Linked DNA regions of Homo sapiens. The protein of the gene in region 1 purifies or fractionates together with the protein of each later gene. This does not show direct contact. Each region holds a gene or a part of one and is shown in the gene's direction. Other genes may lie near its edges. The genes, in order: MYCBP, SPAG5, KNSTRN and OTUD4.

Region 1 (7,920 bases):
ATACAAAAATTAGCCAAGCGTGGTGGCACTTGCCTGTAGTCTCAGCTACTTGGCAGGCTCAGGCACGAGAATCACTTGAACCTGGGAAGTGGAGGTTGCAGTGGGCTGAGATCCTGCCACTGCACTCTAGTCTGGGCAACAGAGTGAGACTCTGTCTCCCCCCACCAAAAAAAAAGAAAAAAAGTATACTTTTTCATAGTAAAGTATAATAAGTACTTTATACATATTCATAAATATTACTGAGATGAATTTCTGAAAATGTTCACCAATTGCCAGGAAGAAACCAGAATTTATTTCAAATTTATTTCAATTTGGATTAAAAAAACTAATCTAAATTCCTATGACAGCCAGATCTGTTTCCTCTGGTTTCACTGAATGCCATATCTTACTGAATTATCAAATGAAGCATATTCGTTTTCCTATGTGTATAAATGAGATTTAAAAATCACTGACTTTTTGACCGGGCACGGTGGCTCATGCCTGTAATCCTGGCACTTTGGGAGGCTGAGGCGGGTGGATCACGAGGTCAGGAGATCGAGATCATCCTGGCCAACATGGTGAAACCCCGTGTCTACTAAAATACAAAAAATTATCCCGGGGGGTGTTGGCAGGCGCCTGTAATCCCAGCTACTCAGGAGGATGAGGCAGGGGAATCGCTTGAACCCAGGAGGCGGAGGTTGCAATGCGCCGAGATTGCGCCACTGCACTCCAGCCTGGCGACAGAGCAAGACTCTGTCCCAAAAGAAAGAAAGAAAGAAAAAAAAATCACTGACTTTTCAAGCCAGTAATGGCATGTTGGGGAAAAAGAAATTGACTTTGTTATAACTTTTATATCAAATAATCTTAATAAATAAGGTTAAGATCAGGTTACTAGTTTTAGAAACCTTTCCAAAAGTTCTGTTGAAAAACAACAATAGGCTGGGCATGGTGGCTCACGCCTGTAATCCCAGCACTTTGGGAGGCCGAGGTGGGCAGATCACCTGAGGTCAGGAGTTCGAGACCAGCCTGGCCAACATGGAGAAACATCATCTCTACTAAAAATACAAAATTATCCGGGCATGGTGGTGCATGCCTGTAATCACAGCTACTCAGGAGGCTGAGGCAGGAGAATCGCTTGAACCCAGGAGGTGGAGGTTGCGGTGAGCTGAGATCATGCCATTGCACTCCAGCCTGGGCTACAGAGTGAGACTCCGTCTCAAAAAAAAAAAAAAAAAGAATATAATTTTAGGCCATGCGCATTGGCTCATGCCTGTAATCCCAGCACTTTGGGAGGCCGAGGTGGCCAGATCATCTGAGGTCAAGGGTTTGATCTCAGCTCACTGCAACCTCTGCCTTCCAGGTTCAAGCGATTCTCTTGCCTCAGCCTCCCGAGTAGCTGGGACTACAAGCGCCTGCCACCACGCCTGGCTAATTTTTGTATTTTTAGTAGAGGCGGGGTTTTACCATGTTGGCCAGGCTGGTCTGGAACTCCTGACCTCAAATGATCCACCCACCTTGGCCTCCCAAAGTGTTGGGATTACAGGTGTGAGCCACCCCGCCCAGCCTATATTCTTAATAGAGAATATATACACTCCTCCTCCAGGTATCATGTTTTTTTCATTGTATTGTGATGTCTAAATATAAGTGATTTTAAATTCCTGACATTTAAGTATATTATTGGTAACAGATTCACACTTTGGCCAGGTGTGGTGACCCACACCTGTAATTCCCACACTTTGGGAGGTGAAGGCAAGAGGATCACTTGAGTCTAGGAGTTTAAGACTAGCTGCAGCAATAGAGTGAGACCCTGTCTCTACAAAAAAATAAAAAAAATTATCTGGGTGTAGTTGCACACACCTGCAGTCCCAGCTACTCAGGAGGCTGAGAGGGGAGATGATCGCTTGAGTCTGGGAGGTTGAGGCTGCAGGGAGTTGTGGTTGCAACACTGTACTCCAGCCTGGGCAACAGAGGGAGACTCTGTCTCAACAAACAAACAAACAAAGAAAAAACCCCACAGCTATCTAGGGAAAAAGTAAAGCAACCAGCATATAGAAGTGACATATTGTTATATTTTCACCATAGGTTTGCTTTAAGAAATAGTGCTCCCTTCAGAATGGAAGAATTTATCTGCCTCTTATTTGATGTGGATCAGAGCTAAGATGGCTGACTAAATAAACATGGGGGACTGGAATCTCCTTGGAGATACTCTGGAGGAAGTTCACATCCACTCCACCATGATTGGAAAGATCTGGCTCACCATCCTGTTCATATTTCGAATGCTTGTTCTGGGTGTAGCAGCTGAAGATGTCTGGAATGATGAGCAGTCTGGCTTCATCTGCAATACAGAACAACCAGGCTGCAGAAATGTATGCTACGACCAGGCCTTTCCTATCTCCCTCATTAGATACTGGGTTCTGCAGGTGATATTTGTGTCTTCACCATCCCTGGTCTACATGGGCCATGCATTGTACCGACTGAGAGTTCTTGAGGAAGAGAGGCAAAGGATGAAAGCTCAGTTAAGAGTAGAACTGGAGGAGGTAGAGTTTGAAATGCCTAGGGATCGGAGGAGATTGGAGCAAGAGCTTTGTCAGCTGGAGAAAAGGAAACTAAATAAAGCTCCACTCAGAGGAACCTTGCTTTGCACTTATGTGATACACATTTTCACTCGCTCTGTGGTTGAAGTTGGATTCATGATTGGACAGTACCTTTTATATGGATTTCACTTAGAGCCGCTATTTAAGTGCCATGGCCACCCGTGTCCAAATATAATCGACTGTTTTGTCTCAAGACCAACAGAAAAGACAATATTCCTATTATTTATGCAATCTATAGCCACTATTTCACTTTTCTTAAACATTCTTGAAATTTTCCACCTAGGTTTTAAAAAGATTAAAAGAGGGCTTTGGGGAAAATACAAGTTGAAGAAGGAACATAATGAATTCCATGCAAACAAGGCAAAACAAAATGTAGCCAAATACCAGAGCACATCTGCAAATTCACTGAAGCGACTCCCTTCTGCCCCTGATTATAATCTGTTAGTGGAAAAGCAAACACACACTGCAGTGTACCCTAGTTTAAATTCATCTTCTGTATTCCAGCCAAATCCTGACAATCATAGTGTAAATGATGAGAAATGCATTTTGGATGAACAGGAAACTGTACTTTCTAATGAGATTTCCACACTTAGTACTAGTTGTAGTCATTTTCAACACATCAGTTCAAACAATAACAAAGACACTCATAAAATATTTGGAAAAGAACTTAATGGTAACCAGTTAATGGAAAAAAGAGAAACTGAAGGCAAAGACAGCAAAAGGAACTACTACTCTAGAGGTCACCGTTCTATTCCAGGTGTTGCTATAGATGGAGAGAACAACATGAGGCAGTCACCCCAAACAGTTTTCTCCTTGCCAGCTAACTGCGATTGGAAACCGCGGTGGCTTAGAGCTACATGGGGTTCCTCTACAGAACATGAAAACCGGGGGTCACCTCCTAAAGGTAACCTCAAGGGCCAGTTCAGAAAGGGCACAGTCAGAACCCTTCCTCCTTCACAAGGAGATTCTCAATCACTTGACATTCCAAACACTGCTGATTCTTTGGGAGGGCTGTCCTTTGAGCCAGGGTTGGTCAGAACCTGTAATAATCCTGTTTGTCCTCCAAATCACGTAGTGTCCCTAACGAACAATCTCATTGGTAGGCGGGTTCCCACAGATCTTCAGATCTAAACAGCGGTTGGCTTTTAGACATTATATATATTATCAGAGAAGTAGCCTAGTGGTCGTGGGGCACAGAAAAAATAGATAGGGGCAGCTCTAAAGACCAGCTGTTAAGACAGACAACTGCAAACTCATTTAAGCAAGAGAAAAACAGCTCTAATTCGAGATTGTGAAGCAACACTTCTAAATTCAAAGACATAGAGTTGTCAAATCAGGATTTTTTTTTTTTTAAATGATATCCTTTCGAATGTAACTGATTTTGGGAAAATCACATGTTCAGAATTGAGGCTAAATGGTTTGATCAGGTTTTCTCTTTGAAGAGACCACAGCCTTAGGAAATGGTTCTTGATCTATACAATTCCACCTTGGACACTGGGTTAATTCTGTTTGCCCCTGGAACACAATCACGTAAGTTTCCTTCTAGACTGGCATCCTGATGTGTCTTGAGTATAATCACATGTTGCTACCTAGTAAATAAAATCTTAAGAAGATCCGTGGCTTTCCTTCACCAGTTCATAGCATCGTGATTCATTGCCCGGATTGGACTCGACTCTACTCACTGGACATCTAACCACTCCACTTAATTAACAATACCCACCCTACAGGGGTGTTGTAAGGATTAAAATTTAAAATACCCGTGTTTTCTACAGTGCCTGGCTCAAAAGCTACTGCAAGCTCGTTACTGCTCATCCTCCAGAGGCCCACATCAAGTCAGCCACGACTCAAGGAGACTCCAAAGATAAAAGCTGAAGCCAAAATATATGATTCTAAACACCCTCCTCGGCTACTGCAAAGCACTGTGAGCACTTTCTCAGGACGAGAGCCAAGAAGCCCAGCACCTATGGGTCACCACAGTTTCCGAGGTCCCAGATGAAAAAGATGCGCTCGCTACCACCGTGCGGCGGTCCTTTCTCTCGCAATAGTCTCAATGCTCCCGGGCCCTGCCTCCGGACGCCAGGACAGAGGTACCAAAATCTCACCTCCTGCAAAGAAACCTAATTGCTACGGGGGCCGGAAGAGGAAGAGGTGCGGCTCCGACAGCCAGAGGGGCGGGCATACGCAGCCTCCCTCGGCTCAGCCTGCTACTGGGGATGCAGAGCGTCCTGGTCGCCATGAAAACAGGCCACACCTCGGCGATCCCGGCCGGTGGTTTGCAAGTGCGCAGGCGCGCGCCCCCTTCCGCGCATGAGCAGTGCTGCTCCCAACCCGCCAGTCGCGGTCTCCGGCGCCAGCTACGCCGCTGCCGCTGTCACTATGGCCCATTACAAAGTGAGGGGGGCGCGGCGTGGCTGGGGGCATGCGGGCGGTAGCAAGCCGCTGGTCGGCTCTGGGTGGGAGTGGGGTCGCGCGCGCAGGTTTGGGCGGGAGGGCCCCGAGGTAGTGAGGCGGAGGCGGGGTTGCCGGACTCCCAGCGCCTTCTTCCTGCTCGGCTCCCGGGCTCTGGCCACTGACCCCCGGTGTCTCTTCAGGCCGCCGACTCGAAGCGTGAGCAGTTCCGGAGGTACTTGGAGAAGTCGGGGGTGCTGGACACGCTGACCAAGGGTGAGCCTGGGCTAGGAGAGGGTACCTCGTGCCCTCGTCGTGCTCCCCGGCGCTGCCCCGTTCCCCAGCGGGCCGTAGCGTGGGGAAGGAGGGGAAACAGATGGGGCCCGTCCGGGGTCCAGCGAGGTGGGCCTCGGGGTTCAGCAGGGACCTGGCTGCTGGACGCCGCCCGGGTGGGGTAGCCTAGCTCCGCTACCCTTCTCCGCACCGGGAGTGAAACTCTTGCAGCTGTTGCAAAGTCTCTTCAACTTCCGTTGCTTTGCCTCCAGCAGCCGCAGTGGACATGTTTGCCAAGGACCTTCAGATCCCAATTCCTCCCACCTTACGGTTTTTATGGAGTCCTCAGAATCTTGTTAAGAAAGTTTCCCTCCAACAAAGAGCAACTGGAAAAATGACCGAATTTCCAAGTGGGCTATGAAGTAGCTGAGTGAGCCTAATCCCCAAAGTAGGAGATTCATAGCGAATTTGGCTGTGGCTTTTCAGCCCCCATTCCTTAGTCTGTCTGTGTCAATTCTTATTTTGTGTATATTTCATAAAGTAGAATTACAGCTTAAAGAGCTCGAGGGCATATCAAGGTGGTTACATTGTTTTCACTTTTTAAAATGAAAGCTTACTGTTAACGCTGTATCTCTTCATTCGTGGCTTCAAGATCTAAGTTAAGTAGATGAGTAAAGTGTTGGAAACAGGAGGATTTCAAGGGGTAGGGTACAGTTTACTTTATTGGCTTAGCACTAATTTGAATGCCTGCTATGTGTCACTCAACTCACTGGGATATTCAAGGGTGTAGAATGGAATTGTTCGCAGGGATGAGGACTTGGGTCATATGAAACTAGGAAGTTTGGGAAGTGGGAAATAAATTGGTAACTGCCCTTTGGACAGAAGCAAAGTTTAGAGGAAAATTCTAGGAGCATAACTCCTGGGTCTTAGAAGAAAGAAGGCTAGTAATTTTGAATTGCTACCTATTTGGGGTTCAGATAATAGTTTACCTCTTTGCAAATAAACTTCAGCAAGTCTTAAGGGACTACTCTGTGAAAGTACTGTGCTATGTTGTCTCTGAAAGTGTCACAGATGCTTTGAATGTCATTCCGTCTAAAAACTCCTTACGTTCATTTCTTTCATTTAATAATTTTACTCAGGTGTCTGTTCTGCACACTGGAGATAAGCAGGGGAGGATAAAAGTCTCGGCTCTCATAAGCTTATATCCTAGTTGAGGGAGAGAAATACATAAATAAATATGTAGTGTCAGCTAGTGGTAAGTGGTACAGATAAAAATACAGCAAAGTTAGGGATAAAGAGTAACAGGTGAGGCCAGGCACGTGGCTCATGCCTGTAATCTCAGCACTTTGGGAGGCTGAGGTGGGTGGACTGCTAGAGGCCAGGAGCTCAAGACCAGCCTGGGCAACATGGCAAAACTCCCATCTCTTAAAAAAAAAAAAAAATTGCTGGGCATGGTGTGTGCCTGTAATCTAGCTACTGTGGAGGCTGAGGTGAGAGAATCACCTGAGCCCAGGAGGTCAAGGCTGCAGTGAGTTGTGATTGTGCCACTGGGCAACAGTGACACTCTGTCTCCAAAAAAAAAAAAAAAAAAAAGTGACAGGTGGGATGTGTGTGTCATTTTATATAGGGTGATGGGGGGAAGGCCTTTCTTAAGAAGTAATTTTTGACCAGAAACCTGAAAGAAACAGAGTTTCAGGAAGTCTAAGGAGGCCAGAGTGGTTGGATGGAGCAAGTGAAAGACTGAATGGTAAAAGGCAGAAAAATGACAGTTGTAGGCGGTAACTGACTACACAGAAGATGTTGCCCAGGCTGGAGTGCAGCGGCATGATCTCGGCTCACTGCAACCTCCACCTCCGGGTTCAAGCGATTGTGTTGCCTCAGCCTTCCAAGTAGCTGGGATTACAGGCATGTGCCACCATGCTTAGCTAATTTTTTGTATTTTTAGTAGAGAGGCGGTTTCACCACATGGGCCAGGCTGGTCTTGAACTCCTTACCTCAGGTGATCCGCTCACCTCAGCCCCGCAGAGTGCTGGGATTACAGGTGTGAGCCACCGCCCTCCACTAGAATTTAACCTCTCAATCTCCTTAGATTTCCAGGCTCCTAAATAACATCAGCCAACACAGTATTGATGTGATTTATTAAAAATTTGATTTTCAGCTCCAAACATAGGTGCTTTACACAATTCTATTTGTTTTTTTTTTTTTTTTTTTTTTTTTTTTTGAGACGGAGTCTCGCTCTGTCGCCCAGGCCGGACTGCGGACTGCAGTGGCGCAATCTCGGCTCACTGCAAGCTCCGCTTCCCGGGTTCACGCCATTCTCCTGCCTCAGCCTCCCGAGTAGCTGGGACTACAGGCGCCCGCCACCGCGCCCGGCTAATTTTTTGTATTTTTAGTAGAGACGGGGTTTCACCTTGTTAGCCAGGATGGTCTCGATCTCCTGACCTCATGATCCACCCGCCTCGGCCTCCCAAAGTGCTGGGATTACAGGCGTGAGCCACCGCGCCCGGCCTCTATTTGTTTTTACTTTTTATTTTTTTTGAGACAGAGTCTCACTCTGTCACCCAGGAATGCCTGGCCTCAAGTGATCCTTCTGCCTTAGCTTCCCCAAGTGTTGACGTTACAGGCGTGACCCACTGTGCCCAGCCTCACAAATTTAATTTACATATATATATTTTTTCGAGACAAG
Region 2 (7,024 bases), on another chromosome or scaffold:
GGAGTCTTGCTCTGTCACCCAGGCTGGAGTGCAGTGGTGCCATCTAGGGTCACTGCAACCTCCGCCTCCCAGGTTCATGCAATTCTCTTGCCTCAGCCTCCTGAGTAGCTGGGATTACAGGCATGTATCACTACGCCCAGGTAATTTTTGTATTTTTAGTAGAGACAGGGTTTCACCATGTTGGGGGTCAGGCTGGTCTTGAACTCCTGACCTCGTGATCTGCCTGCCTCAGCCTCCCAAAGTGCTGGGATTACGGGCGTGAGCCACCGCGCCCGGCCTAATTTTTTTTTTTTGAGACAGGATCTCACTCCTTCATCCAGGCTAGAGTGCAGTGGTGTGATCTCGGCTCACTGCAACCTCTGCTTCCCGGGTTCAAGCAATTCTCCTGCTTCAGCCTCCCCAGTAGCTGGGATTACAGGCGCGTGCCACCATGCCTGGCTAATTTTTTGTATTTTTAGTAGAGGCGGGGTTTCACCACATTGGCCAGGCTGGTCTCAAACTCTTGACCTCAAGTGATCCACCCTCCTTGGCCTCCCAAAGTGCTGGGATTACAGGCGTGGGCCACTGCACCTGGCCTGTTTTGTAAATTTTTGATTATTAATAGATATTAATTGTTTGAAGCATTTGAATATATAAATGTATAAGGAAGAAATATTTCTGGTATCTTAGATAAATGTCATATTTGACAGTTCTTTCATACATCTCTTTATGTGTGTCTATTTTGTATATATGCACACACACACACACACACTCATCTTTATATTGTCTTTTTTTTTTTTTTTTTGAGAAGGAGTCTTGTTGTATCGCCCAGATTGGAGTGCAGTGCCGCGATCTTGGCTCACTGCAACCTCTGCTTCCCAGATTCAAGCGATTCTCCTGCCTCAGCCTCCCGAGTAGCTGGGACTACAGGCACCCGCCACCATGCCCAGCTAATTTTTGTATTTTGAGTAGAGATGGGGTTTCACCATGTTGGCCCAGCTGCACTCGAACTCCTGACCTTGTGATCTGACCGCCTCAGCCTCCCAAAGTGCTGGGATTACAGGTGTAAGCCACCATGCCCTGTCTTTTTTATTTTTTTTTTTGAGACAGGGTCTTGCTCTGTTACCCAGGCTAGAGTGCAGTGGTGTGATCTTGGCTTATTGCAACCTTGAACTCCTGAGCTCTAGCAGTCCTCCCACCTCAGCCTCCTGAATAGCTGGGACTACAGGTGTGAGCCATCATACCTTTTAATAATTTCAAAATTAAAGTAAGATACATGAAATTACAATAAAACATAACAGCATAACAAATTACTATAAAGTACACATCCATGTAACTAATACCCAGGTCAGTAAGTAGGACAGTACCAGAATATCAGAAGCCCTTTTTAACCTAACCTTGGTTTTGTTTCATCCACTAATATAAATGAGAAATTTCATATGTTTGATTATTATTATTATTATTTTTTGAGACGGAGTCTCGCTCTGTTGCCCAGGCTGGAGTGCAGTGTCACGATCTTGGCTCACTGCAAGCTCCACCTCCCGGGTTCACGCCATTCTCCTGCCTCAGCCTCCCAAATAGCTGGGACTACAGGTGCCCGCCACCACAGCCAGCTAATTTTTTGTATTTTTAGTAGAGACGGGGTTTCATCGTGTTAGCCAGGATGGTCTCGATCTCCTGACCTCGTGATCCGCCCGCCTCAGCCTCCCAAAGTGCTGGGATTACAGGCGTGAGCCACTGCGCCCGGTCTGTTTGATTATTTTTTTAATAAATAATTGGACTTTCTATCTAAAGCTTCCAGAATAGTTTTTTCTTCATTGTAGCACAGAAATTTTATAATTATGTGTCTAGCATGTATCTTTTCTAGTCAGTCCTGCTTAGAAACTGGTGAGCCATTTTAATGTGCAAACTCAGGTCTTTCATTAGGGTAGTTTTCTTCTAATATTTGTTAATCAGCGCCTCATGTATATATGTTCTCTTCTGGAATTTCTTTTATTTAACTGTTAGGTATCCTGGGTTTATCTTCTAATTCTCTTAGCTTTTTCTTCAGATTTACATTTCTTTATATTTTTATCTTTGCTTTAAGATATTTCTTCCACTTGTCCAGGCCAGTAATTCTAGTTTCAACTCTAATAATTTACTCTTTCAATTCATTTTACTGACATTTTTTATTTAAAATAATATTTATTATTTCTAAAATGTCTTTGTGTGTGTATTTATGTTGTAGTTAAAGCTTAAGTACTCGTTTTTTTTGTTGTTGTTCAGATTATCATCTGTGTCTTCCAGCAGCTCTGTTTTGTTAGGGTCTACCTTTTTTATTTATTTATTTATTTTTTTTTGAGACAGGGTTTTGCTCTGTCACCCAGGCTGGAGTGCAGTGGCACGATTTTGGCTCACTGCAACCTCTGCCCCCTGAGCTTCAGTGATCCTCCCACCTCAGCTTCCTGAGTAGCTGGGACTACAGGCACACATCAGCACCACCATGCCCGGCTAATGTTTGTATTTTTAGTAGAGATGAGGTTTGAACTCAAGCGATCCACCTGCTTGTGGCCTCCCAAATGCTGAGATTACAGGCGTGAGCCACTGCGCCCAGCCGAGAGGGAGAAGAACTTGTACCAACTCTAGATTCTGACAGAGCTTAAGCCTTCACTCACACCCTATGGACCCCTCCTATCTGTTCATCTAGAAGTGCGTTAGAGTTCAGAATGGAGATGAGTGGGGTCACTTTCAAGCTACCATCTGCCCACGATATGGATCTATATTCTCAGCCTGTTTATAATGTAGGCTGGTTCACTTGGAAGGACCCAAAATGGCTTAGCAGCTTTTCTTTCCCTACTATTGGGTCTCTATATGAGCAACAAAGATTAGCCAAGTTCTTACCTAAGCAGAGGTAGTAAGAATTCTTTTCTTTTTTGAGTGCACTATCTTGCACCTGTAATTGTATGTCGGGAACTGAATTGACTGCCTTAGACAACTACTTTTGTTTCCTTTGGCAGGAAGGCAGCAACAACTCATCTCCAGTGGATTTTGTAAATAACAAGAGGACAGACTTATCTTCAGAACATTTCAGTCATTCCTCAAAGTGGCTAGAAACTTGTCAGCATGAATCAGATGAGCAGCCTCTAGATCCAATTCCCCAAATTAGCTCTACTCCTAAAACGTCTGAGGAAGCAGTAGACCCACTGGGCAATTATATGGTTAAAACCATCGTCCTTGTACCATCTCCACTGGGGCAGCAACAAGACATGATATTTGAGGCCCGTTTAGATACCATGGCAGAGACAAACAGCATATCTTTAAATGGACCTTTGAGAACAGACGATCTGGTGAGAGAGGAGGTGGCACCCTGCATGGGAGACAGGTTTTCAGAAGTTGCTGCTGTATCTGAGAAACCTATCTTTCAGGAATCTCCGTCCCATCTCTTAGAGGAGTCTCCACCAAATCCCTGTTCTGAACAACTACATTGCTCCAAGGAAAGCCTGAGCAGTAGAACTGAGGCTGTGCGTGAGGACTTAGTACCTTCTGAAAGTAACGCCTTCTTGCCTTCCTCTGTTCTCTGGCTTTCCCCTTCAACTGCCTTGGCAGCAGATTTCCGTGTCAATCATGTGGACCCAGAGGAGGAAATTGTAGAGCATGGAGCTATGGAGGAAAGAGAAATGAGGTTTCCCACACATCCTAAGGAGTCTGAAACAGAAGATCAAGCACTTGTCTCAAGTGTGGAAGATATTCTGTCCACATGCCTGACACCAAATCTAGTAGAAATGGAATCCCAAGAAGCTCCAGGCCCAGCAGTAGAAGATGTTGGTAGGATTCTTGGCTCTGATACAGAGTCTTGGATGTCCCCACTGGCCTGGCTGGAAAAAGGTGTAAATACCTCCGTCATGCTGGAAAATCTCCGCCAAAGCTTATCCCTTCCCTCGATGCTTCGGGATGCTGCAATTGGCACTACCCCTTTCTCTACTTGCTCGGTGGGGACTTGGTTTACTCCTTCAGCACCACAGGAAAAGAGTACAAACACATCCCAGACAGGCCTGGTTGGCACCAAGCACAGTACTTCTGAGACAGAGCAGCTCCTGTGTGGGTAAGCGCCCCTATGTCCTTGCACCTCGTGAGTTCCATTACCCTGGACCTTCCCCTCCCATCCCTTCCCCTCCTTTTCTTTTCGTCATGTTCTTCTCTTTCTGCTGCAGCCGGCCTCCAGATCTGACTGCCTTGTCTCGACATGACTTGGAAGATAACCTGCTGAGCTCTCTTGTCATTCTGGAGGTTCTCTCCCGCCAGCTTCGGGACTGGAAGAGCCAGCTGGCTGTCCCTCACCCAGAAACCCAGGACAGTAGCACACAGACTGACACATCTCACAGTGGGGTAAGAAGGTTCCTCTCAAAGCTTGAGGGATCCCAGTGGGGATCCTTGGAATTTAAGCTGAGAAGCTGCCAGAGGGCAAAGGGGACTCCTATCACAGGCTTATACTTAGAACATTTGCAAAAGCTGAGAATCTGGGCAGTCACAATGGCTGATGCCTGTAATCCCACTGCTTTGGGAGGCCAAGGTGGGAGGACTGCTTGAGGCCAGGCATTTGAAACCAGCTTGGGCAACACAGCGAGATCCCATCCCTACAAAAGATTTTTAAAAAATCAGCTGGATATGGTTTTGCATGCCTCACTACTCAGGAGGCTGAGGCAGGAGGATCATTTGAGCCCAGGAGGCTAAGGCTGCAGTGAGCTATGATCATGGGCAAGACAGTGAAACCCTGTCTCTTAAAACAAAAAAGCTGAGGATCTGGAAAATCCCCTTAAAGCTGTGGGTAGTCACTCTACCCCTGGGGTACATCAGAACTTTCCAAAGGAGTGCAAGCAAGGAAACTTTTAAAGGAATTGGTTTTTAGATCATCATCTTCCACAAGTATTCTTTTTCTTCGTTTTTTGCATTGGTAGACTATATTTAATATTTTAAGAAAAATTATGAATAAGCCTAAAACATTTTTTAAAATAATTTTTAATTTTTGTGGTTACAGAGTTAGGTAAATATATTCATGGAGTCCATGAGATGTTTTGATATAGGCATGTGATGGTCAATAATCACATCATGGAAAATGGAAAATGGAGTATCTGTATCTGTCCCCTCAAGCATTTATCCTTTGTGTTACAAGCAATCCAATTATACTTTTAGTTTTTTTTTTTTTTTTTTTTTTTTTGAGACGGAGTCTCACTCTGTCACCCAGGCTGGAGTGCAATGGCCTGGTCTCGGCTCACTGCAACCTCTGCCTCCCAGGTTCAAGCGATTCTCCTGCCTCAGCCTCCTGAGTAGCTGGGACTACAAGCGCATGCCACCCCACCCGGCTAATTTTTGTATTTTTAGTAGAGACAGGGTTTCACTATGTTGGCCAGGCTGGTCTCGAACTCCTGCCCTCATGATCCACCTGCCTCAGCCTCCCAAAGTGCTGGGATTACAGGCGTGAGCCACTGCGCCTGGCCCCTGTTGTTTATGTGAAGAAGATTTCTCAGTGTTTACATCTGTCAGAATGGAAAGGAGTCAGCTGGCATAGTGGCTCACCCCTGTAATCTCAGTACTTTGGGAGGGTGAGGTGGGAGGATCGCTTGAGCTCAGGAGTTCAAGACCAGCCTGAGAAGTATGGTGAAACCTCATCTCTACAAAAAAATACAAAAATTAGCTGGGTGTGGTGGTGTGTGCCTGTAGTCCCAGCTACTTGGAAGGCTGAGGTGGAGGATCACTTGAGGCTAGGAGTTCAAGGCTGCAGTGAACTGAGATCTTGACACTGCACTCCAGCCTGGGCAACAGAGCCAGACCCTGCCTCAAAAAACAGAGTCACGAATTGTTGCTGAACTATTTCTTATTGCTGGAATTATAGTAATCCACAGATATACGAACTAATAAGGGGAAGGAATCTCCATCGATTTCATTAATAGGTGATTCCCAATTAAATTTTGCCGAGCATGTTTATTTTATTAGAAATTATATTACAGTGACTAATATACAACTGATTAAAAGATTTCTCTATCCTAAAGAAAGCTTTTTCACTTTAAAGCCTTCCGGTCAAAGGAATTTAAAGGAAATTTTAATTTAAATTTAGATGAACTTTCATTGTTGTTGCAGAGATGATGGTTAATAACAGATTTTATTTTTATTTTTTGAGATAGTTTCTTGGTCTGTCACCCAGGCTAGAGTACCATGTTGCGATCAGGGCTCACTGAAGCCTCAGCTTCCTTGGCTCAGGTGATCCTCCCACCTCAGCCTCCTGGGTAGCTAGGACTGTAGGTGTATGCCACCACACCTACCTAATTTTTTTGTATTTTTAGTAGAGATGGGGTTTTGCTATGTTGGCCAGGCTGTTCTCAAACCCCTGGGCTCAAGTGATCTGCTAGCCTTTGCCTCCCAAAGCACTGGGATTACAGGTGTGAGCCACTGTGCCCAGCTAATAACATACTTTAAAGCATAAAAATATATTACATTAGGCTGAAATTCTGAGAAAAATAAAAAATATATGTTCAAAGAGAAAAAGGGATGACATAATAAAATTTCTGACTGCTAAGAAGAGCTTTTTCTTGTATTTTTAAAAGATAGCAACTAGGTATCTCATCATTTTGGTGTATGTAGTATTTATGCCACTGGATATATTTAAGAGTAATCTAATAATTTTATTTTAGGCTGGGCATGGTGGCTCATACCTGTAATCCCAACACTTTGGGAGGCCGAGGCGGGAGGATCACCTGAGGTCAGGAGTTCAAGACCAGCCTGGCCAACATGGCGAAACCCCGTCTTTACTAAAAATACAAAAATTAGCTGGGTGTGGTGGAGGGCACCTGTAATTCCAGCTACTTGGGAGGCTGAGGCATGAGAATCGCTTGAACCCGGGAGGCAGAGGTTGCAGTGAGCCAAGATCGCGCCACTGCACTCCAGCCTGGAGGATAGAGTAAGACTCTGTCTCAAAAAAAAAAAAAATTATTTTAAATTGTCAATATTGGTAATATGCTGGACATTACAGCCTTTGCAACAATTTAAACTTAAGGGTACTTAGTTTTTGCAG
Region 3 (7,024 bases), on another chromosome or scaffold:
GGAGCTTAATGAGATGGTACAAGGATTCAGGCATGTTTTACCTGCTAACTTCCACCCTGCTCTCTGCTGGTGTCCATCTCCATGTTCACTTTTACAGCCTACACCTTTCAGTTCAATGAAACTTTTGGCTACCCTCAAACATGCTGTACTGTCACGTTTAAATAATTTTGGTTTTTATTGCCAATTAGCCTGGAAGTTTTATTCTTTTGAATTAATCTTCACATGTTGAAATTTGCCAGAATGAAAATAAAGATTTGGCCAGGCATCGTGGCTCACGCCAGAGTGGCCAAGGCAGGAGGATTGCTTGAGCCCAGGAGTTCGAGACCAGGCTGGGCAACATAGTGAGACCCTGTCTCTATTTTTAAAATTTTAAAACATATTTGAGGTGCCTATAGTCCAGCTACTCGGGAGGCTGAGGCAGGAGAATCGTTTGAACCCAAGAGGTGGAGGTTGCAGTGAGCCAAGATCACACCACTGTACTCCAGCCTGGGCCACAGAGCAAGACTCTGTCTCAAAAAAATAAATAATACTTTTTAAAATAAAGTAAAATAAAGATTTATGACAACTTCGAATGGGGCTCTGTTTGTTACAGGGTTGCAACTGTCGGGTCATGATGCCAGAAGCTTTACCTCTCATTTTCCTTTGCAGACACACAAACTCGGGCCACTTCTAAGAGTCTCTTACCTGTTAGGTCCAAAGAAGTCGATGTTTCCAAACAGCTTCATTCAGGAGGTCCAGAGAATGATGTTACAAAAATCACCAAACTGAGACGAGAGAATGGGTGAGAACGGATCATTAGTATCCAGTTAGAACATCTTCCTAGAAATTGCTCAATACAAAGAATTAGAAAACAGAGTTTTGGACAACACAAGTCTCCTGAACAACTGGCCTTCAATCAGTGGCCCAGAGCAGTGCAGCATTGCTGAGCTCTGTGCCAGAACCCTCTGTGTTGATCTTTCTGAAGAGACACAGCCAGAGTTATAAGAGGTGTTCTTTCCTCTTTCATCGCTTGCTCTGAGCATACAAGTGGCAGCACTGTAGTCATACAGCAACCCTGAGGGGTAGTCATGCAGGGTGGGGACTAGTTGTTATCCTAGGTTGCTGCTCTGACCACACAGTCCAGCCCTAGTGTGTGTGTATGTCCCCAGCCAGCAGTCAGTTCCAGGTGAGTGAGGTTGACATGAGATAGCCACGCCATCTTGAGAGGAACAGCTCTGTCAGGTTGTTAGGGTGGTCGGAGGCATGCCCCTTTGCTACTAAAAAGCCTTTTCAATAATCTGTGCCGAAGCAGTAATGCATAGTCTCTCAGAGCTCTTAAGCTTGTGCCATTTGCCTTTTATGTCTGGTTCTTTCCTCAGAAACTCAAGCTCTTTGTTCTGCCTGTTCACAGCACACTTAACAGTACTGTAAGTCTCTGATTCATTTCTTTGTTTCTGCCCTCCTAGGCAAATGAAAGCTACTGACACTGCCACCAGAAGGAATGTCAGAAAAGGGTGAGCATCAGGGTAAATCAACTTGGCCACTATTCTAGGGTAGTGGATCTCAATCCTTGGTTCTGCATCAGAATCATTTGTGGGACTTGTTTACTGTGTTAGGGTCTGGGTTCCACCTCAGGAACCTGAGTGGAATTTTCAGGGGTGAGGCACAGCTAGGTGTAAGAACCATTGTCAGTGCAAGAATCACTGGTGCTACTATCTTGTGTCTCAAGCAAGAGCTTTTTGGACTCCACGCCAGGACCACTGCTGATTGGAAATCACACTTAGCTATGGCCCATCAACAGGAGGGTAAAGCCTTCAGGAGAGGAAGGGCTGGGTGTATGTAGTTAGTGATCTCGAGATGAAGATTCTGGTGGTGGTGGTGGTGAAAACCTGGAGAAGGATTCATGTCTCATCTTTGAGGCTAGTTTGGAAGTTTTGCACTATCAGAAATAGAAATAATAAGCTGAAAAGTCTGTACAAATAGGTTTTAGTTCCAGATCTATTATTTGGGCATATCTTAAAAGTTTTGAAGACAGCAGGGCACACCAGCTCACACCTGTAATCGCAACACTTTGGGAGGCCAAGGTGGGTGGATCACCTGAGGTCAGGAGTTCGAGTCTAGCCTGGGAAACATGATGGGACCCCATCTCTACTAAAAATACAAAAATTAGCCAGGCATGGTGGCGCATGTCTGTAATCCCAGCTACTCAGGAGGCTGAGGCAGGAGGATCACTTCATCCCGGGAGGCAGAGATTGCAGTGAGCCAAGATCACGTCATTGCATTCCAGCCTGGGTGACAGAGCAAGACTCTGACTTACAAAAATAAAAAAGTTTTGAAGACAAAATACTAGCAAAAAAGACTGAGAACTTTAAGAAAAAACTCTAATATTGGTTGCTGAGACCAGCTTGGTCGGGGAGACCCTAACCCAGCGGCGCTAGAGGAATTAAAGACACACACACAGAAATATAGAGGTGTGAAGTGGGAAATCAGGGGTCTCACAGCCTTCAGAGCTGAGAGCCCCGAACAGAGATTTGCCCACGTATTTATTAACAGCAAACCAGTCATTAGCATTGTTTCTATAGATAGTAAATTAACTAAAAGTATCCCTTATGGGAAATGGATGGGCTGAATTAAAGGAATAGGTTGGGCTAGTTAACTGCAGCAGGAACACGCTCTTAAGACACAGATTGCTCATGCTATTGTTTGTGGCTTAAGAATGCCTTTAAGGGCCGGCGCAGTGGCTCACGCCTGTAATCCCAGGATTTTGGGAGGCCGAGGCGGGTGGATCTCAAGGTCAGGAGACCATCCTGGTTAACTATGGTGTTTCACCGTCTCTACTAAAAATACAAAAAATTAGCCAGGCATGGTGGCGGGTGCCTGTAGTCCCAGCTACTCGGGAGGCTGGGGCAGGAGAATGGTGTGAACCCAGGAGGTGGAGCTTGCAGTGAGCCGAGACCACGCCACTGCACTCCAGCCTGGGCGACGGAGCGAGACTCCATCTCAAAAAAAAAAAAAAATGCCTTTAAGTGGTTTTCCGCCCTTGGCAGGCCAGGTGTTCCTAGCCCTCATTCCCGTAAACCCACAACCTTCCAGCATGGGCATTAGGGCCTTTATGAACATGTTACAGTGCTGCAGAGATTTTGTTTATGGCCAGTTTTGGGGCCAGTTTATGGCCAGATTTGGGGGGCCTGCTCCCAACAATTGGTGATATTAGAGTTTATTAGATGATAAACTAACATTAGATAATAGCCCAGCTACTGGGCTAAGAAATGCACACGTGTTTTCTCTCTTATTACTCATAATAATAATACTATGAGATGTGGGTATTGTCCTGATTTCAAAAATGAGGAAACAAGGCCTCAGGGAGGTTATGCAACTCACTGAAGGTCATATACCACTGTGTAATAGCCAGGATAGAATGGGACGTGTTTGTGTAACTCTGTAGGCCGTATTTTTCTTTCTTTTTTTTTTAGACGGAGTTTTGCTCTTGTTGCCACCCAGGCTGGAGTGCAATGGCGCAATCTCAGCTCACCACAACCTCCGCCTCCTGGGTTCAAGCGATTATCCTGCCTCAGCCTCCCAAATACCTGGGATTACAGGCATGCGCCACCACGCCTGACTAATCTTTTGTAATTTTAGTAGAGACAGGGTTTCTCTTATCTTGGTCAGGCTGGTCTTGATTTCCCGACCTCAGGTGATCTGCCTGCCTCAGCCTCCCAAAGTGCTGGGATTACAGGCATGAGCTACCGCACCTGGTGTGGGCCATACTGTTAACCCTTTTATCTTTTCATGTAAGTACAACTATTATTACAGCTACAAACCACTGAGTAAGCAAAAATCAGAGGAAGAGCTCAAGGACAAGAACCAGCTGTTAGAAGCCGTCAACAAGCAGTTGCACCAGAAGTTGACTGAAACTCAGGTAAGAGACCCACCAGAGCTCTGTTACCAGCTGCCACTGGGCGATCCACATGGAATCCTGATGGGTGGCCCCTTGGATGAGCAAGCTTGTTAATGCACAGATGCCCAAGGGCAGAAAAAAAAAGCCAGGCTTTTGCTATGGCTGTCCAAGAGCAAGGGCAAGAAAGGGCAACCACCCCTAGGGAGTTGGACAATTCCTGATCTGTCTGTGCTGTGCTCCAATAGGGAGAGCTGAAGGACCTGACCCAGAAGGTAGAGCTGCTGGAGAAGTTTCGGGACAACTGTTTGGCAATTTTGGAGAGCAAGGGCCTTGATCCAGGTAAGAGACAGCACACAGCTAGCCTCCTTTGAAGGAATTGGTGCATGTGCCCCTTCCGGGGTTGATCTTGGCAGCATGGCATCAGCTGGCCCAGTATGTGCAGGGGTTACTTTCATAAAGCCCTAAAGATTTTGGAAAGCTTCTGTTTGTTTTCATGTGATGTTGATTTTTGCCTGGCCAATAGGATTTCAGATGATTATAGAGAGAGGGTTATCTCTTTCTTACCTGAACACTTTATGCCATTCATTTAGTGCCAACAGGTATGACCTTGCAAATAGATGAGAAACACTTTGTTCCTTTCAAGGGAGAACATTTTCTGTCTCTTCCTATTTGGGAAAGTTACTAGTGTGCTTGAAAGGAACATTTTGTTTGAACATGCTCTTCCTTTCAAGCATACTAGTAATCCCAAATGGGAAGAGAAAGAAAATACTATTTCAAGCATTCTTAAACCTGGTTAATCATCAGAATTACAGTGACTAAAATATGACTACTATTCTGACCCTGTCCCCCAGAAAGCAGTATCTGTAGCAAAGAGAGCAGAAGAAGGAATTGCCCAAAGACTGTAAGAGGGCCTCAGACTGAGTCAAAGAGCCAGAGAATGCCCAGGAAAGGGGCCCAGGCCTTTTTGTATTAAGGAATACTGACTTTGAATGTTACTGGTTAATCTTTAGGTTACAGTTGAGGATATTCTTTTTTTTTTTTTGAGATGAAGTCTCATTCCATTGCCCAAGCTGAAGTGCAGAGGTGTGATTTCGGCTCACTGAAACCTCCTCCTCCTGGGTTCAAGTGATTCTCCTGCCTCAGCCTCCTGAGTAGCTGGGATTACAGGCGTGTACCACCACACCCAGCTAATTTTTGTATTTTTAGTAGAGATGGGGTTTTGCCATGTTGGTCAGGCTGGTCTCAAACTCCTGACCTCAAGTGATCTGCCTGTCTCGGCCTCCCAGAGTGCTGGGTTTACAGACATGAGTTACCATGCCCAGCCTAGGATATTCTTTATAGTCACCATAAATATATATGTTTTTAAATTTAAAATTGTTTATTTTTTTGAGATGGGATCTCGCTATGTTGCCCAGGCTGGCCTCCAACTCCTGGGCTCAAGCAATCCTCCCAAATAGCTGGGACTACAGGTGTGCACCACCACATCCGACACCATAAATATTTTGTATGATTTTAGTTTATTACATGCATGTGATATTACCGAAAGTAATAATTTTTTAAGGCCTGAAAGGCTCTTAAAAATAGCTTTGTGAATTGTGAACAAAACCAAAAAAAATCCAACCTATACATTTCCTTTGGACAAATTGTCCACTGACCTAAGGAGAAAGTATACCGAATTTTTGGCCATATCAAAACCTAGATTGAAAGGAGATAAAATACAGTTTTGCAGGGCAGATATGGGTGACCCTGCCAAGGTGAAAACTTAGGAGAAAGTCCAGGATGAGACACTTAAGAGAAATTCCCCTCATGAATATTTCTGTACTTGTCCACGGAGGGTTTTTATTTTCTTTTGTTTAGGGTGTGTAGTTCCCTAAGTGAGATTGACTTTGTTGTATCCATCAGCTTTAGGCAGTGAGACCCTGGCATCACGACAAGAATCCACTACTGATCACATGGACTCTATGGTGAGGGCATGGGTGTGAAAGGGCGCAAGGGCTGAGTGACTGTGGGGCTCTGTAAATCTAAGAAGGTCTCTGCTATATATTCCATAAACTCCAAGAAACAGCCTTTGATTATCTGTGATGCTAGAAAAGAGAAATGGGATGTGTACTCAAAATAGCATATTTTACTTGAAAGGTAGCTTTGTGCTTACAAATATAAGTGAGTCTGAATTGAAAATTTAAAACACATAATAGGTAAACCTGTAGAGAGAGCTTTCTCGTTCTTCTGTTCTATACTTTATCAAATTTCTCTCCTGACTCCTTTGTTGAGAACTGTGTGGAAAGGATGTTAGCCATCATCTAATGCAAGTCTGGTTTTATATGAAGATTTGTTTACTACATTGTGCTTTCCTCTTAGTTGCTGTTAGAAACTTTGCAAGAGGAGCTGAAGCTTTTTAACGAAACAGCCAAAAAGCAGATGGAGGAGTTACAGGTGAGAGGCAGACATCACCCTGACCATTTCCTACCATGATAGGTAGATTTATAGTGGGGTCTTTTCTGTTTTTCTATTTATTTTTAATAAACTTTCTAAATAATTTTAGATTTATAGGAAAGTTACAAAGATAATACAGAAAATTTACCCTGATAGTAACGTGTTTTTTTTTTTCCAACTTTTAAGTTCAGGGGTACACGTACAGGGTGTGTAGGCTTGTTACACAGGTAAACGTGTGCCATGGTGGTTAGCTGCACAGATCATCCCATCACCTAGGTATTGAGCCCAGCATCCATTAGCTATTCTTCTTGATGCACTTCCTCCTCCACCCCCAATAGTAACATCTTACATTATCCTGGTACATTTGTCAAAACTAAGAAATCAGCCAGGCATGGTGGCTCACGCCTATAATCCCAGCACTTTGGGAGGCTGAGGTGGAAGGATTACTTGAAGCCAGGAGTTTGAGACCAGCCTGGGAAACATAACAAGACCCCATCTCTACAAAATAAAATTTAGAAAATAGCCAGGCGTGGTGGTACATACCTGTAGTCCCAGCTGCTCAGGAGGCTGAGGCAAGAAGACCACTTGGGCCCAGGAGGGCAAGGAGATAAAGTCTCACTGTTGTCCCCCAGGCTGGAGTGCAATGGCGTGATCTCGGCTCACTGCAACCTCCGCCTCCCGGGTTCAAGCGATTTTCTTGCCTCAGTCTCCCAA
Region 4 (7,024 bases), on another chromosome or scaffold:
GCAACAGGGTGAAACCCTGTCTGTATTAAAAAATACAGTCCTTGTTGGTAGGCAACCCTTGGTTAGGATCAAATTTGTTTGCATATTATCTTTAGCTACTGTGTGTTTTTCTTACATTTCTAAGACTATAAGGGCTATTTGTACTTCATTTGTATAAAAGGCAGGCAACTCAATATGTATCTGGTGGTTAGAAATAGTGTTAAAGCAAAATGACCTCTTGTCTTTTTCTGTCTTCCCCCACTCACCCCTTTCTTGAAGAAGCCAGCAGAACATGTGTCTTTGTCAAATCCAGCTCCCCTTCTAGTTTCTCCAGAGGTACATCTAACTCCTGCGGTGCCTTCTTTACCAGCCACTGTGCCAGCCTGGCCAAGTGAACCTACAACTTTTGGACCAACAGGTTAGAGAAGGGTTTAGAAAATCTAGCCAGCCAAAATACCTTTCTAGTCAGAGACTTCAAATTCTTGAGTGGAAGTTTGACCTCTGAGCAGGATTAGGTGTGTGGAGCCTCACAGAGCTTTCTGTGATACTCTGCTTTGCTCTGCTTCCAATGTGGAAAGACCATGTACATTTGGTGTTGTATTCATCTGACATATGCCCTCATAGTCTCAGGAGCATGATGTTTGAGCTGGTTGCTTTGGTTGCTCAGCACTAATTAGCACCACGGTTTGATGCTTCCTTCATGGGCCAGCTCTTTATGGCCCCGTAATGAACCCCTTGACCAGCCCCATGTCCTACACGTGCCTGCAAGAGCTACTATTAGAAGACATTGACTCAGAGCTTGTATCCTGGACGTATTTCCTTCTTGGTGTCCAGGAGGGCTCTTGGTTGATACTAAAAGGTACTACTTTAGATTGGCTTTATCAGTTATACAGCATTCTTTATAGGTTAATGTAAGCATATTTGTAGAGATTTTCATCTTTTGTCATTTTGATTCCTTTTCTTCTCTTTTGTAGGTGTCCCTGCTCCAATTCCCGTTTTGTCAGTGACACAGACTTTGACCACTGGACCTGATTCAGCTGTATCCCAAGCTCATTTAACACCCTCTCCAGTTCCTGTGTCAATACAGGCAGTTAACCAGCCCTTGATGCCTTTGCCTCAGACATTGAGCCTTTATCAAGACCCACTCTATCCTGGGTTTCCTTGTAATGAAAAGGGAGATCGAGCCATTGTACCACCTTATTCACTGTGTCAGACTGGGGAGGACCTACCTAAAGGTGAGCTCCTTCTCCAAGTTCAAATCGACTTTATCAAGTCCAAATAAGCTTAGTTAAGAAATGAAGAGATGTAAGTAGAGGTCAGAGGTCTGGTTTCTTAGTAAGCTCAAGGATGGGAAGGACAGCAAAGTTTTAGCTATTAGTCAGTCATTCTTGTTTCAGCTTGATTTATTAGAAAATGTATTATAATTTTTTTTTTTTTTTTTTTTTGAGACGGAGTCTCGCTCTGTCACCCGGGCTGGAGTGCAGTGGTGTGATCTCGGCTCACTGCAACCTCCACCTCCCAGATTCAAACAATTCTCCCACTTCAGCATCCTGAGTAGCTGGGATGACTACAGGCACATGCCACCAGGCCTGGCTAATTTTTTGTATTTTTTAGTAGAGACGGGGTTTCACCGTGTTAGCCAGGATGGTCTCGATCTCCCGACCTCGTAATCTGCGTGCCTTGGCCTCCCGAAGTGCTGGGTTTACAGGTGTGAGCCACCGCGCCTGGCCCAGAAAATTTTTTTTTGTTTCTAGCATACTTGTTAATGCTAGTATGCTTAGTAATGATACCTCCTTCTGTGTTTTTACATAAATGGACTTGAAACCATTCTGAATTACAATAATAATTTCACTAATTAGATACCTAAACACTGTGGAGCTTTATCAACACTGGTCTGCATTTCAGACATGCATCCGTGAAAAAGTTACAGAGAAAAGCAAATATAGTATGTAGTGGCTGTTAAAGTACTATATTTAGTATGTCTTATTTTTGTTTAAAAAATTCTTTCAAAGTTTGCTTTCCCTCTTTATTTTTAAGGAATTTACACCTCCCTCCTTTTTAGTTTCCAAAATTTTATATCTGTAAATTTGAGTAATGCACTGACTACTATATGCTGTTTACCTGGATTTATGTGGATGTTTTTGTTTTATTAGTTAGTAGTTTGATGTTTGTGTCTATGAGTAACTGGCTCATGGCATATGAATACTTGGAAGAATATTATCCTGCAAATGATGCTACTAATAAGTTAGGTTTTATGTTGATTTTACCATTCTTCTCAACATTTTTATTTCCTAATTTTTAAACCCCCAGAAAAGTTGAGAAAGAAAGCCACCTGAATGTCCTTTACCCAGATTCAGTTTTAATGAGATAAAAATTTCAATCTAAGCCATTTTGGGATTTATATGCTAACAGACAAAGCCTATTGAATCTGGAATTAACCTTTGGGAACAACCTGTTTTTGGGTTGTGTTATATTACAGTTTTTATCTATGTTTTGTATCACAGGCTAGAGAAGACAATTATAGTAGGTAAAATTGTCTTTAGAACTATATATTTAATGAGGATGATTTAAAAAAATCTCTGCAGATATATAATTTTAACAAGTGATTACTTTTATTTTTAGATAAGAATATTCTTCGATTCTTCTTCAATCTTGGTGTGAAGGTATTTACATTTTATCATCTTAAAAGTTATTTTATTCATTAATAGTGTTTTAAATTATTACTAGTGTTAACTCTTACCCTGTCAGTCAGTAACCTAAAGTTTACTAAATCTCATCATTTTAAAAACCAGCATTTTCAGTACTATATCGTTTGTTTTTGGTGCTAGTAGAGGCTCCAGTTTTACTTACTTTTTTGTCTTAACTGGTGATGGCTTAACCTGTGAGTATATTTAAGACATAGCTGCATCTTTGGGCAGCCTAGTGGAAATGCCCTTGCTGGGGAATAATTAGATGTAAATCTGGGCTTGAAGTTCTGCTCCATCACTCTTTAGCTGAATTTCCCTGGGCAAGCCATGTAGTGTATCTGGGCCTAGCTTTTTTCATTTATAGAATGGGGGTAATATTCTTTACTTGCCTCCATTATTGAAAAGATCAAAGGAAATAACGTGTACATCCTCCTATGTAAGATAGTGTGGTTGTTGACTAGAAGAGCAGAGGTATCCTTTGGGAAGTGGTCAACCTAGAAATAGCTTTTCTTAGGTTGGAGAACTCTGTCCTTGTTAAATGTTAGGTTTTCTCCTGACCTAGATTAGTTTTTGTGGGTTCTAGACAGTTAAACTATGAAACGAAGTGCCCTACCTTTAGCCTGCTGACCACTTTCATAAAAAGAAACTTGATTATTTTACTATCTGCTGCATTGCTTAATTTTAATGTATTTAATGTTGATTTTAATTGGTTAGCCAATTAGCTGGTTATACTTTCTTCATATTTTGGTTTTTAGCTGAACTCTTGCAGAGGAAGGATTTGGAATATTTCATTTTCAACATTATCCCTCCCTGATTAGAGGTCTAACTTAATCCTTACATTCGGAGTACTCTTGGGGGCTCCTAGAATTGCAGAGTCCTGACATTGGAGATCATCTACTCTTATACTGACATTCCCAGTAAAACAAATTCAGATGTTAACTGGCCTGCATGGGGTCACACAGTGAGTTAGTGGTAGAGCCCGAATGTGAATGCAGGTCTGGCTAAACAGTCAGTGATGGAGATACTATCTCCTATCAACCTATGAGGACTTCAGATTGGTTTTAGGACAGGAGCAAGCAATGGAGTCTTAAAGCAGTGAATTTTGTAATTCATTTTCACGTTGGTTATCACAGTGATTTAGTATTTGGACTATAGATTATATGGTCTTTGTAGGCATGAGAAACTTATTTTGACCCTAGTACTTGTAGATTGATATCCACCCAAACCTCTCTTTTTTCTCCTCTTTTGTTTATTTAACTGTTTTTTGTCTCTTCAGGCATACAGTTGTCCTATGTGGGCCCCACATTCTTACCTGTACCCTCTGCACCAGGCCTACCTGGCAGCCTGCAGGATGTACCCAAAGGTCCCTGTCCCTGTTTATCCTCATAATCCCTGGTTCCAAGAGGCTCCTGCTGCTCAGAATGAAAGTGATTGTACCTGTACTGATGCCCACTTTCCTATGCAGACTGAGGCCAGTGTTAATGGTCAAATGCCACAGCCAGAGATTGGACCGCCGACATTTTCTTCACCTCTGGTTATCCCTCCATCTCAGGTGTCTGAAAGTCATGGACAATTGTCTTACCAGGCTGATCTTGAATCTGAGACCCCTGGGCAGCTTCTGCATGCTGATTATGAAGAGTCACTAAGTGGCAAGAATATGTTCCCCCAGCCATCTTTTGGACCCAATCCATTCTTAGGCCCAGTTCCTATTGCACCTCCTTTCTTTCCTCATGTTTGGTATGGGTACCCTTTTCAGGGATTCATAGAAAATCCAGTAATGAGGCAGAATATTGTCCTGCCCTCTGATGAAAAAGGAGAATTGGATCTGTCTCTGGAAAATCTGGATCTGTCTAAAGATTGTGGTTCAGTTTCAACAGTAGATGAGTTTCCAGAAGCCAGGGGTGAACATGTACATTCTCTCCCTGAAGCAAGTGTGAGCAGTAAGCCGGACGAAGGCCGGACAGAGCAATCTTCCCAGACACGAAAGGCAGATACGGCATTGGCTTCCATCCCTCCTGTAGCAGAGGGAAAGGCTCATCCTCCCACTCAGATTCTAAACAGAGAGAGAGAAACTGTGCCTGTTGAACTTGAACCTAAAAGGACCATTCAAAGCCTGAAAGAAAAAACAGAAAAAGTAAAAGATCCTAAGACTGCTGCTGATGTGGTCAGCCCTGGGGCCAACTCTGTTGATAGCAGAGTGCAAAGACCAAAAGAAGAGAGTTCAGAAGATGAAAATGAAGTGTCTAATATTTTGAGAAGTGGTAGATCCAAGCAGTTCTATAATCAAACTTATGGAAGCAGGAAGTACAAAAGTGATTGGGGCTATTCTGGTAGGGGTGGATATCAACATGTGAGAAGTGAGGAGTCCTGGAAAGGACAGCCAAGCAGAAGTCGGGATGAAGGTTATCAGTACCATCGAAATGTCAGAGGGCGACCATTTAGGGGAGATAGGAGGAGATCAGGGATGGGAGATGGCCATAGGGGACAGCACACTTGATGGTTGTTGCCGAAGTATTTTCTAACAGAAACTCTTAGGTGGAATGTTTCTGAAGGCTTTAAAAAAAATACAATAAAGTAAAAACCGCAGTTGGAACTCTTTCCTCTCCCCAGCCCCCCTTACCTTCACTCCCATACTGGACAAGACATTTTGGACATGAGTTCAAGGGGGCAGGTTAATTCCTGGCATTGCCAGTTTTCTTCATTCAGAATCTGTTTGTTGATCAAGTGACTGTCCCCGTAAAAAGTAGAAGATAAGTTTGTTAAAGTATTTTTTATAAACAGCTTAATATAAAACATTATAGATTTAGTGTTTGGCTTTTTTCCTTATAAGTTTATAAGTTTGATTTCAGATGTTGGAAATGTGTGCTTTATAGTGTTTACTAAAGTGACAAGAAAATATACCATTTGACACACTATAGATTCCAAACATAACGTTGCACCAAATAGAAATGTATATTTTATTATGCAATGCCTTAGTCATAAACTGGGCTCAAACAATTCTCAGCCTAAAACACTGTTGTCTTTTAAAATGCTTCCAACCCAAAGGCCTTTCATCTCAATATCTGTCAAACTTGAATAATGTCTTCTCTTTAATATTCACATAAGGCAGCCTATTAACTGTGTCTTAGCAATGTTGTATATAGTTCTTTTAATATTCATAAGGTATATTTTTGAATTTTGGTATTTGTTGAGATTGCATAGAAGAATAGTAGGAAATCCAATGAAATGGCTGTTTCCACCAAGAATTCTTAGCACTGGTGTAAATATCATGGTGCCTACTCGAAAGAAATGTAGATGCTATGCATTTTGAAAATAATCTGCATCAGTTAGAACTGCAGAAGTTTTTTTAATGCCACTTTAACACTAATGCACTGACAGATTCTAAATATTTTGTGAGAAGAAATGTTAAAAATTTTTAGCTTGACAGGTTTCTAGAGTTGTTTTCTTCCTCCCCCCCCCCCCCGCACCATTGGTTGTGTATCACTTTCACTTTACACTTGCATGTTCTACTTGTCAGGGCTGGAACTATTGTATAGAAGATAATATGATTGTGACTTCTAGTTCTTTTCTAGAGGATGCTGCTAGAAAATGGTTTTGCTTTGTATTTTATAGCTTGTTACCCTTAGGTAGGTAACATCTTACATTCTGTTTTCTTCCAGTCTTTGCAGTATTCACTAGAGGTTCCCTTTGCATGTTGCACTCTGTTCTCATTTGGAGATTGAACTCTGAATTAACACAGTATTCATTCATCTGTGTTATTTTGTAAAAATAACTGTAGCTTATATTCTTTATTTGTGCATACCAATGTGAAAATCCACTCTTTTATTATGTTGAGATTATCTTCTGATCAGGAAGTTTGAGTGCTATGCAAATAACATAGTAGTAATTTCTCTTTGCATGCCATGTGTAATATACCTAGCCAAAACCAGATGCGGTGACTTTCTTTTTTTGTAAAGCAAATTACTTAAGAAAATACAATTCACTTGAATTTGACAAACTGAAACAGATGGGTTTTCTGGGTTCTCTGATAACCTATGGGAATGTTTGGATGCCAGTTGGGCTAGTGAATCGCCACTGTACTGTAATAATGGTTATTTACCTCTGTGCTGTTTTAATTACCTAACGTCTGTGTAACTGCTGATTTGAGTAGTGATTAGCATTTAGATAATGTAACAGGATTTTAGAGAGCACTTTGAAAGATAACATTTTATTATGATGGTGCTAGGTAAAAAATTGTAAAGACTGGGATGGTTGTGTGGAAAACTTTTCTTGAGAGAACCTATTGAAAGGAATTTGTTGTCACCTTCTTAACTAGAATAGTTGTTGAAGGTACCGCTTAAGCCATTTTTTTCTTAACA

Evidence for each region.
Region 2: the proteins of MYCBP (region 1) and SPAG5 purify together in Homo sapiens (co-immunoprecipitation; 3 studies listed by BioGRID and IntAct, with this or other methods). This does not show direct contact.
Region 3: the proteins of MYCBP (region 1) and KNSTRN purify together in Homo sapiens (co-immunoprecipitation; 2 studies listed by BioGRID and IntAct, with this or other methods). This does not show direct contact.
Region 4: the proteins of MYCBP (region 1) and OTUD4 purify together in Homo sapiens (co-immunoprecipitation; 3 studies listed by BioGRID and IntAct, with this or other methods). This does not show direct contact.

Annotation. Positions count from the first base shown.
Region 1 is NC_000001.11:38,870,335-38,878,254, reverse strand, and holds the start of MYCBP (C-Myc-binding protein), read left to right. Parts: upstream 1-4,906; 5' UTR 4,907-4,949; coding exon 4,950-4,964; intron 4,965-5,164; coding exon 5,165-5,237; intron 5,238-7,920. Other genes in the region: GJA9 (gap junction alpha-9 protein), read left to right, coding at 2,157-3,704. UniProt on the Homo sapiens protein: May control the transcriptional activity of MYC. Stimulates the activation of E box-dependent transcription by MYC.
Region 2 is NC_000017.11:28,589,018-28,596,041, reverse strand, and holds part of SPAG5 (sperm-associated antigen 5), read left to right. Parts: intron 1-2,975; coding exon 2,976-4,060; intron 4,061-4,169; coding exon 4,170-4,344; intron 4,345-7,024. UniProt on the Homo sapiens protein: Essential component of the mitotic spindle required for normal chromosome segregation and progression into anaphase. Required for chromosome alignment, normal timing of sister chromatid segregation, and maintenance of spindle pole architecture.
Region 3 is NC_000015.10:40,385,714-40,392,737, forward strand, and holds part of KNSTRN (small kinetochore-associated protein), read left to right. Parts: intron 1-648; coding exon 649-781; intron 782-1,445; coding exon 1,446-1,493; intron 1,494-3,792; coding exon 3,793-3,898; intron 3,899-4,122; coding exon 4,123-4,216; intron 4,217-5,779; coding exon 5,780-5,841; intron 5,842-6,235; coding exon 6,236-6,310; intron 6,311-7,024. UniProt on the Homo sapiens protein: Essential component of the mitotic spindle required for faithful chromosome segregation and progression into anaphase.
Region 4 is NC_000004.12:145,135,569-145,142,592, reverse strand, and holds part of OTUD4 (OTU domain-containing protein 4), read left to right. Parts: intron 1-258; coding exon 259-397; intron 398-953; coding exon 954-1,214; intron 1,215-2,601; coding exon 2,602-2,642; intron 2,643-3,942; coding exon 3,943-5,163; 3' UTR 5,164-7,024.